Homo sapiens: one gene and its partner. The protein of the gene in region 1 interacts with the protein of each later gene in a pairwise test. Each region holds a gene or a part of one and is shown in the gene's direction. Other genes may lie near its edges.

Evidence for each region. The genes of interacting proteins can lie anywhere in the genome.
Region 2: the proteins of TENT5D (region 1) and PABPC3 interact in binary tests that used the Homo sapiens proteins (3 or more experiments, as listed by UniProt).

What each region holds. Positions count from the first base shown.
Region 1 is NC_000023.11:80,437,444-80,444,472, forward strand, and holds part of TENT5D (terminal nucleotidyltransferase 5D), read left to right. Parts: intron 1-1,166; 5' UTR 1,167-1,289; intron 1,290-5,078; 5' UTR 5,079-5,096; coding exon 5,097-6,266; 3' UTR 6,267-7,029. UniProt on the Homo sapiens protein: Catalyzes the transfer of one adenosine molecule from an ATP to an mRNA poly(A) tail bearing a 3'-OH terminal group.
Region 2 is NC_000013.11:25,091,670-25,099,152, forward strand, and holds the start of PABPC3 (polyadenylate-binding protein 3), read left to right. Parts: upstream 1-4,466; 5' UTR 4,467-4,529; coding exon 4,530-6,425; 3' UTR 6,426-7,483. UniProt on the Homo sapiens protein: Binds the poly(A) tail of mRNA. May be involved in cytoplasmic regulatory processes of mRNA metabolism. Binds poly(A) with a slightly lower affinity as compared to PABPC1.

The sequences.
Region 1 (7,029 bases):
TCCGTGAGATGATTAACACTTTATTTTATAGTTTTTTTATTGAAGTATACTATTCAGGGTATTCTACGATCTTATTGAACACAGTATGGAAACACCAAATTGATATTATTTGATAAGCATAATCTTTTCTTCTTGATATAAGAAAATACTATTTTTTTCTGAAATAGGTATCTGTATTTTAAAGGGATAATGGTTGATTATGAGTAAATCATTGTTTAATTAAATACTGAACTGTTATTTCTCACAGACATTAATATTCTCTCTTGGAAACAAATGCAATGTGTCAAATAAAATATCTAATACCTCTTTCCAATAGTCAAATCATGTTTAATACTTCTTTAGACTGGTAAAATATAATACATTCAGACCAAAATCTTGTTGTTTGTTTGTCTATAGGTACGTATATATGGATATATAACTTGAAAGTTTCTAAAGTACAGGAATTCATTTTTATATACAATCATTTATTATAGGTAAGGGAACTAATTAGATTTAGGACCACAATACAAGCTTTAGAAAGACTTTCTACTGGCCTTAATGTCCAGCTCAGAAAACAATATTGCACTGCTGAAATGTTTTCAAAAGTTTATGGCTTAAAAGAGCATTCACTTTGATTAGAATTTTCTGTATTATTTAATGTAATGTTTTAAATTAAGTGGAAATAGCCAAAATATGAGGGACTAGGAACTGCTATTGAGACTACTTTTCCTTTACCGTTTCTTCTCAGTTTTCTTCAGTGTAGCAGTTCTTAAAGTGTCATTCCCTGACCAGCAGCATTAGCATCATCTTGGAAGTTATTAGAAATGAAGATATTCTGGCCCCACATCTGACCTGCTAAATTAGAAACTCTGGAGGTGGGACCCAGAAATCTGTGTGTTTACACACAGATAAAATGATTGCTCTAAAATAGTGGTTGTCAAATTTTAACATGCATTAGAGTTACTAACCATCTGTGTAATTCTAATGCATGTTAAACTTTGAGAACCACTATTTTAGAGCAATCATTTCATCATTTCTTCTGTGTGTATGTATGCGTCTGTGTGTGTATGTATGTATGTATGTATGTATGTATATAATTTTCAGGACTGTCGGCCATGGGGCATCATTATATTATTTGTATATAATATCTATTAAAGAACTTTATTTTTGCTTTTATTATCTTGCAGTTTTTCTGGTTGGTGTATTACTTTATTCAGTGATAATATGAAAATTACTATCTTCACTGAAGGATCTACTGAATAATCATTTTAACTCAACTATATTGCATTCTTGAAAGCAATCCTTTCAATGTAAGTATGATGTCTTTTCTCACTGTCTTTGAAAATATAGTTCTAATATTAATATAGACAGGTAAAGAGTGGCTAACTTCTTATGTTTCCCATCGTCAAAGGGAACATAGAGTTGTAATAGGGAGAACAATTACATTTTCTTTATTATACAAATATCCATTCATAGTCTTTTGTGATATCTTGACAAATTGCTTGCTTTGCTTTGCATTCCCAGATGAATTTAACCAGTTGAATAATGGAAACCACTTTGCATTGATTTTGGCATTTACTGTAGTCAGATACATTACAGGCATACTAATAGGTTAGGCTAGATGGGAAAAATGTTAGCTTAAAGGATAAGTATATTGGGAGAAGACAGGGAGCCAAACAAGATTTAAATATTCTGCAATGTGAACTACTGCTGATCTCCACATTTTGAAAACGATAATTAGAAATTTCATGTTTTGTGCTTCTATTGAGGTTTATGTGGAAAATTATTGAAGAGTTTCTGCCTTGAATTTGGAATTTTAACTTATGAAAATGTAGCTTTATAATTCATACTCAATAAACACACTTTCAGTAAATAAAAGTTGGATTGTACCCAAGACAGTATTATAAGCAATATGGGTGGCTTTGTTGCAGTTTTTCCACCTTTACCATGACATTCATCCAAAGTTTCTATTTAGCCATACTTTTTGCTTCAGAAAATTCAAATTAAGTTTCCCAACAAGTTTTCTGATGTGCTGTTTTTGATATATGGGTGATTAACTCTACTATATGCGGTTAAGTATGGAGCCATAATCTACACATTAAGATAAGTCCTATTACTTTAATGCCATATTTGAAATTTGTACTAATAACACTGCATTGATATTGTACATTATGTGAAAATGAACAGTAGCTGTGCCAAAAGGAGCATAACATTATTGTCAAATCTTGATTATTCATGTTAATAGAGGTCAGCATTTTTGGAGGCATGTATAGATTCCAGATCAGTACAAATCACTTATATTTACTCCATTGTGACATGTATTTTATTATATTTTGTGCTTATATATGTCTATATGTATACATATATATGTTTGAGTATATATGTATCACAAATTTTTATCATAATTAACGCTTTTTTCTAGGGCTAATTTTAAAAATTTGTAATTTTCATTTTCTTATGTAACAGTAGAGGTAGTTAGTGACATGGTAACTCAGAATTTGTCAGTTAGTAATGATATGGAATAAAATAGACTTGATTCCAAAAACAAGCTTTCATAGTTATGGCTAGAGAAAGGTTAAAAAAAACCTAACTGGTTATTAAAGCCTTGATTTAGACAATTGAATAATGTGTTGCTCACGCAAGGACACCGTTTCTCCACATCCTGGCAAGTTGTCATCACTGTTTCTGTAATTATTATGAAATACTAGGCCTAAACTATTTTATGTGTGTGTGTTTAAAGCTTGTAGGTAATTGAAAAGACTAGAATGTTTGGAAATCACTAGCATAGATAATTAAGTGGCAATTGGAAAGTTGCATACTGATGGACAGTTTTTCTACACCACTTTCCTGGTATAAAGTGAAGTTAAATTTTGGACCACTTTCTTATCTTTGCAAGATCTTACTGCCATTCTGTTTGGTAAACAAAATCCTATCTTCTCCCTTCTCTGATATCTAGGAGCAGATCCAAGATATTAAGTAGGGCTTCCAATTTCTTGGTTTGAAGGATATCTCTTGATCAAGGACTTCTGCATTTTGGCAATTTTTTTTTAGTTAAGTCTCTGGATGGTTTTATTTGTATATAAGTGTCCTGTCAACTTTTGTTTGGGAAAGAATTTCGTAATTTCAGTAATGTCAATATAGCAAGATAAATGTTTTCCTTTATTTTCAGATCATAGATGATTTACATGGAGACTGTAGGCCTAGGATTAGACCATTGAATTTTTTAAAATTTTTACTGATATTGACAATGGAAATTTGCCATTAAGGAAAGGAAAATATATATTTGCAAAACAAATTTGCACATGAAGAAGGAATTTTAGAACTTTTGCTGTATCATAAATTAAAATCTTAACAGTTTATATGTGATATTTAAAAAATATTTATTAGGTAAATTGTTTTTCTTCCTAAAACCTTTACATGAAGCCAGCCAGTGTTATGAACTATTCCTTTTCTAGATTGAGAATTTGAGCATAACAAACTGTTAGCTTCTAATAATTCAGTGATAATTTCAGAAGGAACTAGAAAATAAGATTACCAGTTCTCATTGCATGTTGTATCACTTCATGTAGCATCTTGCTCTTTCCAGTGTCCTAAAGATGCTATATAGATCATTTCATTCGATAGATAAATTACCAAATTCTGAAAGCCTGATATGTAATCAGTTTGGTCCATCCATCTTTAAGGATCGATTTGGATATTCACGTAGCTGATCAAACTGTATAAACATTAGTCATTAAAGTGGCTTAAAACAAGCATCCTATTTCATGGGTCATTTCATCATATAATAAAAATAAATATTCAGTCTGTAGTTCATATTTCTAGGGATTACATACAGAGAAACAGAATAGGTTTAATTTTTCCTTCTCACTAACACAGATATGCTGTTGCTTAATAGGCCTTTTGCAAAATGCATGGACTATCAAAGTAGTCCACGTAGATGTCAAATAAGATGATTATGTTTGCTCTAGTTCTACTAGGGAAATACATAATACTAAATTTCAAATATTTATATTCTGTTTTGATAGCTCCTTAGATAGGCAAAATATGAATACTGTCCACACAAATCTTAGGCTTCATATTGTTTTTTATTTCTGGAAGTCAGGAACAAATGCCTAACCCCAAAACTATGTCCATGTTGAATGTTATTTACTTTCCTAGATTTATTTGTTTAGACAACTTATTAGCGTACTTGAAGATCCATGTAATCACTGTGATTGTACATAACAACATAATTGTATCTACTTGCATTTATAGTGTTACAATATATTATAAAATGTTAACTTCCTAACATTCCCTAAACTATAAAATTATCTGAGCATATTATATTGCAAATCTGCAGTGAACATTTTTTAAAGCTTAGGAATCTTATGAGTTTATATATTCTTATTCTCATTTCAGGTACAAATTTAGTAGTCTCATCTGTTTTTCATTTTAAATTGACATTCCTTCAACTAACATTTTTTAAAGGGCTACTGGGCACATAGAAGAGGTGATAAATTAGGTACTTTCCTTATTAAGGAATTAAAGGAGCTCATACTCTAACAGAAGACTTCAGTAATATTCTTTTAAGTAAGAGCAGTTATATATGAGAAACTGAAAAGTATATGAGAGAGTGATCTGATGCTTTTGGGATTAAAGATTATATATATTGTTTGTAAACACTATGCCATTGAGTCCATTGGTTCTAACACAGAGACATGTTATCTGGTCTCACTTTACAATCATGATAATTAATCTCAATGATACATTATGGTTATCCCATGAACAAAATTTATATCACCAAAGAAATACCATCATTATAGTATTTACATGAAGCAAGATTAAAAAAGGCTACCATTTTATATCAACAGTCATTACAACTCCAGAAAATTCCTGAGAAATCTGTTTGCATTCATCAATGTATCTAACATCTTTGACATAATAATTGTGGCTTTTATTTCACTTTTATATTTAAACATGATTAAATATATTGGTAATTTCCTCCCTAGTATTATCATGGTTTATGTTGAGGGTAAGTCTATTTTTAACTTTTTCATATGCTTTAGCATTGGTTTTAAGGTGCTAACATATTTCTTCCCAATATTTTGTTTGCTGTCTAGTGATCTACTGACTTCACAATGTCTGAAATCAGATTCACCAATCTCACTTGGGATCAAGTTATAACACTGGATCAAGTGTTAGATGAAGTAATTCCAATTCATGGAAAGGGGAATTTCCCCACAATGGAGGTAAAACCAAAAGACATCATTCATGTTGTGAAAGATCAACTCATAGGGCAAGGAATTATTGTTAAAGATGCCAGATTGAATGGTTCCGTAGCAAGTTACATACTTGCAAGCCACAATGGAATCAGCTATAAGGATCTGGACGTTATTTTTGGTGTTGAGCTTCCAGGTAACGAAGAATTTCAGGTTGTTAAAGATGCAGTTCTAGACTGTCTACTTGACTTTTTACCAAAAGATGTAAAGAAGGAAAAGCTCTCCCCAGATATCATGAAAGACGCTTACGTACAGAAATTGGTCAAGGTTTGCAATGGGCATGATTGTTGGAGTCTTATCTCCCTTTCAAATAACACTGGGAAGAATTTAGAACTAAAATTTGTGAGTTCACTCAGACGGCAGTTTGAATTTAGTGTAGATTCCTTTCAAATTGTTTTGGATCCCATGTTAGACTTCTACAGTGACAAAAATGCCAAGCTAACCAAAGAATCCTATCCTGTTGTGGTAGCTGAAAGCATGTATGGAGACTTCCAGGAAGCAATGACACATTTGCAACACAAGCTCATATGTACCAGGAAACCTGAAGAGATTAGAGGTGGTGGCCTTCTGAAGTACTGCAGCTTGCTGGTTCATGGCTTCAAGCCAGCCTGTATGTCAGAAATCAAAAACCTAGAACGTTATATGTGCTCTAGATTCTTTATTGATTTTCCTCATATAGAAGAACAGCAAAAGAAAATTGAATCATACCTCCACAACCATTTCATAGGTGAAGGAATGACCAAGTATGACTACCTTATGACCTTGCATGGAGTTGTGAATGAAAGCACTGTTTGCCTCATGAGTTATGAAAGAAGACAGATTCTCCACCTGATCACCATGATGGCTTTGAAAGTACTTGGAGAACTAAATATTCTACCCAATACACAAAAGGTAACTTGCTTTTATCAGCCTGCTCCGTACTTTGCAGCTGAGGCAAGGTACCCTATTTATGTAATACCTGAGCCACCCCCCGTTAGCTTCCAGCCATACCACCCACTGCACTTTCGTGGATCAAATGGTATGAGTTAAAAAATACACATGCAACCATAGAAACTTTGATTTAATTAAACACCATTTAAAAGCAAGTTTCCAAATGTAAAATTCAAGATCTGTTTTTATTTTTGTACAGTTACCAATTATTTTCAATTACAGTTGATGGAATAGTAGTTACCAACTATTTTTGATCAATTAAGCCATCATAGTAAATACAATATCTATAAACCAACCACTTTAAATGTTTTTCAAACGTTATTGACTAGCTATAATAACTTTCAAATGTTGTGTTCCCCTTGAAGTGATTTTCAAATCTTTTGACTACTTGTGACTTTCAAATTTACTGTGACAAATATATTAGAGATGCCTGCATCTTTGACTATAACATAAAAGGACAGATTCATGTTTTAAAATTAAGATGTACAGTGAAGTATCAAATTTTTTATATTCAGTCAGTTCCTTTGTTACATTTAGTTCTTTTTTTCTATTGAACAATACCATCAATAAATGTTCAGTACTTAACAGAAATGCCTAATTTCAAAAGCAACAGATTCAGAAGACATTAAAACCCTGGACTTTTCAAGCATTTTTTTTTGACAATTAAATTGGGTTGGATACAAAAATCCTACTATAGTTTAAAGGAATACTGGAAAAAAATGGTTCTGGAAAGCCCTGGACATTAGTAATTTGTCATCTATATAATAAAACATTTAGTTAATTTGTGGATTTGAATAACAATACCATACAGCTGTGCAACTACTACTGAGATCAGATACAGGGTTTTTTGCCCCTCAAAATA
Region 2 (7,483 bases), on another chromosome or scaffold:
AGGAGGTGGAGGTTGCAGTGAGCTGAGATCATGCCATTGCACTTCAGCCTGGGCAACAGAGTGAAACAAACAAACAAACAAAAAAATGAAGTGGCCAAAAATGCTTAGTTGGCCTGCCCCACTCATCCTAAGCTCAATCTTGGAAAGCCAGTGCACACAACCCCTGCCATTTTCACCACCCTCAGAGTTCCACAGAGCTCCACAGCCACCAAGGAACTGTAACTGTATCCCCTGTTCAAAAATTTAAAAACATAAAAATACATGAAAAGCAAGAAAAAATACATGTTTAAAAGAAAAACCCAGAGTGGTGAATATTAGTGTGTTATCTGAGAAATACTCCCTATCTTAGAATGAGTTCCTCATGCCCGTTAACACCCATGTTGTAAGGTGAACATTTGCTAGCCTCATCCAGACAGAATGGACCAAGAGCAGGCGTGTGTCTTTGTTGGCCAGCTTGGTTAATGAGATGAGATTAGACATGCTCCTTCTTCACCTCTTCACCAGACTCACAGACTCTGACCAATGAAAATGGTCTTAATTATGATTTTCTTTCTATTCATTGTCTGTTGGGTTCCTACCTATGCTGATTTTCACAGTCTTGAAAGTGTGTATTTTTTTAAAAACATTTTTTTAATTTCCAACTTTTATTTCAAGTTCAGGGGTACATGTGCAGGATGTGCAGGCTTGTTACATAGGTAAACGTGTGTCATAGTAGTTTGCCGCAAAGATCATCCCATCACCCAGGTATTAAGCCAGCATCCATTAGCAATTCTTCCTGATGCTCTCCCTCCTCCCCCTGCACCCTCCAGCAGACTCCAGTGTGTGTTGTTCTCCCCCTGTATGTTCATGTGTTCTCGTCATTTAGCTACCACTTACAAGTGAGAGCATGTGGTATTTGGTTTTCTGTTCCTGCGTTAGTTTGCTAAGGATAATGGTCTCCACCTTCATCCATGTCCCCATAAAGAACATGATCTCGTTTCTTTCTATGGCTGTATAGTATTCCATGGTATATATGTATCACATTTTCTTTATCCAGTCTATCATTGATGGGGATTTATGTTGATTCCATGTCTTTGCTATTGTGAACAGTGCTGCAATGAACATATGCATGCATGTATCTTTTAATAGAATGATTATATTCCTTTGGGTATATACCCAGTAATGGGATTGCTGGGTCAAATGGTATTTCTGCCTCTAGATCTTTGAGGAATCACCACACTGTCTTCCACAATGGTTGAACTAATTTACACTCCCACCAACAGTGTAAAAGTGTTTGTTTTTCTCCACAACCTCACCAGCATCTGTTGTTTTTTGATTTTTAGTAATAGTCAGTCTGACTGATGTGAGATGGTACCTCATTCTGGTTTTGATTTGCATTTCTATAGTGATCAGTGATGTTGAGCTTTTTTTCATGTTCATTGGTCACATGTATGTCTTCTTTTGAGAAGTGTCTATTCATGTTCTTTGCCCAAAAGTGTGTATTTTTGTACTTCTCTATTTGGACAAGTACAGAAGTGTCATTTTGTATGTTTCTATTTGGACAATATGTGTAGGTGCAACATTTACAACCCCACTGTACAATCTGACACCATTGTCCACAATAATATGTCAACAGGGTAGCCTGACAGCCCATATTTGAGGCTTTCCACTTTTAATTCTTTTTTAAACATAAGAATCGACTTTATTCTGCCTTATTTGTGCATAAGACTACCTTCAGTATTATCTGACGACAAACCAAAGACTAGATGTTTTCTACAGATTACCAACTCTCCAGAAGAGAAGCAGTCAAACTTATAATTGCTAAAAATCATGAAATGAAAAGGAAGCTCCACAAAAGGGAAGAGGGAAAGTGTAGGAATTAGACATGGGGATTTCCATTCCCTGTTACTCTGGAAACCATGGTGACTGAGAGCTGTGATTAAACCATATAATATGCCGATATAAACTTAGAAGAATCTGGGAAAGAAGAAATTTCTCTGGCCAGGTGTGGTGGCTCACGCCTGCAATCCCAGCACTTTGGGAAGCCGAGGTGGGTGGATTGCTTAAGCTCAGGAGTTGGAGAGCTCAGGAGTTCCAGACCAGCCTGGGCAATATGGCAAAACCCCATCTCTACCAAAAATACAAAAATTAGCTGGGTGTGGTGGCATGTGCCTCTAGTCCCAGCTACTTGGGAGGCTGAGGTGGGAGGATCTCTTAAGCCTGGGAGGTGAAGGCTGCAGTGAGCTGCGGCCACTGCACTCCAGCCTGGGCAACAGAGTGAGGCCCTGTCTTCAAAATAAAAATAATAATAATAATAAATAAATCCCTTCTATCTATTCAGTTCCTTTTCCTTCCAGACAAAATTTTTCCACACAAATCAATTTGTTTGCTAACTGCATCAGGATTTTCTCTAAACCATAATACAATCGGCAGATTAGTTGTCCAGTGGAAATAACCTTCTCCTGTATGGTCTAGGCTTGTTTTAAATGCTCTACCATCACTGGGCTTGGGATTGCAATCCTCAAAACTTCTGGGAAATCTGAAAATGAAGTTACAAATTAAATCATAGGTCTCCAAGAAGCCTGGAATTTTGATACATTCATCCCGGTTTTCTTCCACCCAAGTGTATATTCCGTGGGCTGTATCTGTGGGGAATCTGCTTTCCTGCCCATGAACACACCGAAATGGTTCTGCGAAGATGCCTTTCTCTGGAAGAGCATTTTGCTTTTGTTAATGAGGCAGAAAATCGATCTCATATTGTTGAGTAACCACACCCTTCCTAGCACTTGGTTTTTACAAGACCACATTGTTGAAATGATGGACGTGCTCCTAAAAAGCTGTGTATCAACTTCATTTTTAAACTTTTAATTGAATTTTATATTAGTGGCAACCACTATTTAAAGAAACCCTCTACTCTAGGCTAGGCGCGGCGGCTCACGCCTGTAATCCCAGAGCTTTGGCAGGCGTAGGTGGGCGGATCACCTGAGGTCAGGAATTCTAGACCAGCCTAGCCAACAAGGCGAAACCCCGTTTCTACTAAAAACAATACAAAAATTAGCCAGGCGTGGTAGTGCCTGCCTGTAATCCCAGCTATTCGGGAGGCTGAGGCGCTAGAATCCCTTGAACCCGGGAGGTGGAGGTTGCGGTGAACCAAGATCGCACCACTGCACTACAGCCTGGGTGACAGAACGAGACTCTATCTAAACAAACAAACAAACAAAAAACCCTAAAATAAATTATTTGTAACATGAACAGAATGAACAGATCCTCCCCCAAACTGATATTTTTTGTGGGACTGGACCTTTCTTAAAGGATTTTCTTAAATAGAATTATTTCAGATCATCACTTACTTAGATGTGTAGCTATATTAGGTCACAAGATTGTGTACTTATAATCATAAAACGTATACTTAATAATGAATCCCAACCTGACCTCAAAAGACTATATCATATAATACTATATTAACATTACATATTTATTGGTCGGGCACGGTGGCTTACGCCTGTAATCCCAGCACTTTGGGAGGCCGAGGTGGGTGGATCACGAGGTCAGGAGTTCAAGATCAGCCTGGCCAAGATGGTGAAACCCCGTCTCTACTAAAAATACAAAAAATTAGCCAGGCTTGGTGGTGGGTGCCTGTAATCCCAGCTACTTTAGAAGCTGAGGCAGGAGAATCGCTTGAACCTGGGAGGTGGAGGTTGCAGTGAGCCGAGATCGCACCACTGCACTCCAGCCTGGGTGACAGAGCAAAACTCCGTCTCAAAAATAAATAAGTAAAATAAAAATAAATAAATGAAAAATAAAATTACATATTTATTATGTTTTATATTGTTATATAATATAAAAAGTCGGTTTTTCGGGGTTTTTTGTTTGTTTGTTTGTTTGTTTGAGATAGTCTCGCTCTGTCACCCAGACTAGAGGGCAGTGGCGCGATCTCTGCTCACTGCAACCTCCACCTCCCGGGTTCAAGCGATTCTCGTGCCTAGGCCTCCCGAGTAGCTGGGATTACAGGTGAGCACATCAAGCCCAGCTAATTTTTTGTAATTTTAGTAGAGACGAGGTAAAAAGTAGAAAATATTTTATAAAAATATATTTGTGTAAAGTAGAACATATATAAAAACATACTAAAGGAGAAAGGAGAAAAAAATTCTTTCATTTATTTTTTTCCCAGGCATTTTAAATTTGGATTATAAAAATCATTTTAGAAAAATCATTAATGCTCTTTTACAAAATAACCCGGTGAAGCAGCTGAGCCCGAGCCGCCCGCCAGCGGCCCCGCAGCAGCTCCAAGAAGGAACTAAGAGACCAAGGCCTTCCTGCTGCCCGGACCCGACACCGCTACCCTGGCTCCCCGCCGGCAGCCGGCAGCCAGCGGCAGCGGATCGACCCCGTTCTGCGGCCGTTGAGTAGTTTTCGATTTCGGCTGATTTTTGTCCCTCTGCGCTTGCCCCCGCTCCCCTCCCTCCGGCTACGCCCCCGGCCCCGGCACGCGCTCTACTCCTGTAACGGAAAGGTCGCGGCTTGTGTGCCTGCGGGCAGCCGTGCCGAGAATGAACCCCAGCACCCCCAGCTACCCAACGGCCTCGCTCTACGTGGGGGACCTCCACCCCGACGTGACTGAGGCGATGCTCTACGAGAAGTTCAGCCCGGCAGGGCCCATCCTCTCCATCCGGATCTGCAGGGACTTGATCACCAGCGGCTCCTCCAACTACGCGTATGTGAACTTCCAGCATACGAAGGACGCGGAGCATGCTCTGGACACCATGAATTTTGATGTTATAAAGGGCAAGCCAGTACGCATCATGTGGTCTCAGCGTGATCCATCACTTCGAAAAAGTGGAGTGGGCAACATATTCGTTAAAAATCTGGATAAGTCCATTAATAATAAAGCACTGTATGATACAGTTTCTGCTTTTGGTAACATCCTTTCGTGTAACGTGGTTTGTGATGAAAATGGTTCCAAGGGTTATGGATTTGTACACTTTGAGACACACGAAGCAGCTGAAAGAGCTATTAAAAAAATGAACGGAATGCTCCTAAATGGTCGCAAAGTATTTGTTGGACAATTTAAGTCTCGTAAAGAACGAGAAGCTGAACTTGGAGCTAGGGCAAAAGAGTTCCCCAATGTTTACATCAAGAATTTTGGAGAAGACATGGATGATGAGCGCCTTAAGGATCTCTTTGGCAAGTTCGGGCCCGCCTTAAGTGTGAAAGTAATGACCGATGAAAGTGGAAAATCCAAAGGATTTGGATTTGTAAGCTTTGAAAGGCATGAAGATGCACAGAAAGCTGTAGATGAGATGAATGGAAAGGAGCTCAATGGAAAACAAATTTACGTTGGTCGAGCTCAGAAAAAAGTGGAACGGCAGACGGAACTTAAGCGCACATTTGAACAGATGAAGCAAGATAGGATCACCAGATACCAGGTTGTTAATCTTTATGTGAAAAATCTTGATGATGGTATTGATGATGAACGTCTCCGGAAAGCGTTTTCTCCATTTGGTACAATCACTAGTGCAAAGGTTATGATGGAAGGTGGTCGCAGCAAAGGGTTTGGTTTTGTATGTTTCTCCTCCCCAGAAGAAGCCACTAAAGCAGTTACAGAAATGAACGGTAGAATTGTGGCCACAAAGCCATTGTATGTAGCTTTAGCTCAGCGCAAAGAAGAGCGCCAGGCTTACCTCACTAACGAGTATATGCAGAGAATGGCAAGTGTACGAGCTGTGCCCAACCAGCGAGCACCTCCTTCAGGTTACTTCATGACAGCTGTCCCACAGACTCAGAACCATGCTGCATACTATCCTCCTAGCCAAATTGCTCGACTAAGACCAAGTCCTCGCTGGACTGCTCAGGGTGCCAGACCTCATCCATTCCAAAATAAGCCCAGTGCTATCCGCCCAGGTGCTCCTAGAGTACCATTTAGTACTATGAGACCAGCTTCTTCACAGGTTCCACGAGTCATGTCAACGCAGCGTGTTGCTAACACATCAACACAGACAGTGGGTCCACGTCCTGCAGCTGCTGCTGCTGCTGCAGCTACCCCTGCTGTGCGCACGGTTCCACGGTATAAATATGCTGCGGGAGTTCGCAATCCTCAGCAACATCGTAATGCACAGCCACAAGTTACAATGCAACAGCTTGCTGTTCATGTACAAGGTCAGGAAACTTTGACTGCCTCCAGGTTGGCATCTGCCCCTCCTCAAAAGCAAAAGCAAATGTTAGGTGAACGGCTCTTTCCTCTTATTCAAGCCATGCACCCTACTCTTGCTGGGAAAATCACTGGCATGTTGTTGGAGATTGATAATTCAGAACTTCTTTATATGCTCGAGTCTCCAGAGTCACTCCGTTCTAAGGTTGATGAAGCTGTAGCTGTACTACAAGCCCACCAAGCTAAAGAGGCTACCCAGAAAGCAGTTAACAGTGCTACCGGTGTTCCAACTGTTTAAAATTGATCAGAGACCACGAAAAGAAATTTGTGCTTCACCGAAGAAAAATATCTAAACATCGAGAAACTATGGGAAAAAAAATTGCAAAATCTAAAATAAAAAATGCAAAATCTAAAATAAAAAATGGAAAGGAAACTTTGAACCTTATGTACCGAGCAAATGCAAGGTCTAGCAAATATAATGCTAGTCCTAGATTACTTATTGATTTAAAAACAAAAAAAAGATTACTTAATTTTGATTTAAAAACAAAAAATCGTAAAATACAAAAACCAGTTAATGTTTTGTAGACCCTGGGAAAAGAATTTTCAGCAAAGTACAAAAATTTAAAGCATTCCTTTAATTTTTTAATTCTTTACTGTGGAATAGCTCAAAATGTCCATTCTGTTTTAAGTAACAGAATTGATAACTGAGCAAGGAAACATGGTTTGGATTATAAAATTCTTGCTTTAATAAAAATTTCTTAAACAGTGAAAAAAAGAAAAATCATCAATTTTACTAATAGTCTTTCTTTACATTTTCTATTATTCTATCTCCCACTATATTTCAAATATGAAAATCACTTTTTCACCAAAATTTTAGGTCTTTACATAATAGTGTTTATTTTTAATATTCATAAATGAAAATATGCAATGACAAAATAGTAATTATAAATTCAGTAACATTTGTTCAAAATTGTAAGACAATTATTAATTTATACTGCATTATTTTTAAATAAAAAATAAATACATAGTTTTAAAAATCTAATTGAACAGGAGGCTAAACATGGTTCTGATCACAGAGATAATCACTTTTAATCATTTGGTTTTAGTGTTTCTGGTAGTTGATTTTCTTCAATAATAATTGTACATAGTTATTTCTTGGTTTATCAATTTTGTAATTTAACTATTGACTTCCTGCTGTAACAAATAAGGATATGTTTCATCTACCTCTTCCCACCATCCCTCCTCCTCCTCCCAATATAATTTATCACTACTTGTAGCTCCTTTATTGGTAATATTAATTAATATAAATATTTATAATTAATGTTACACCTAGTGAATTGTATAAAAGGACAGCCC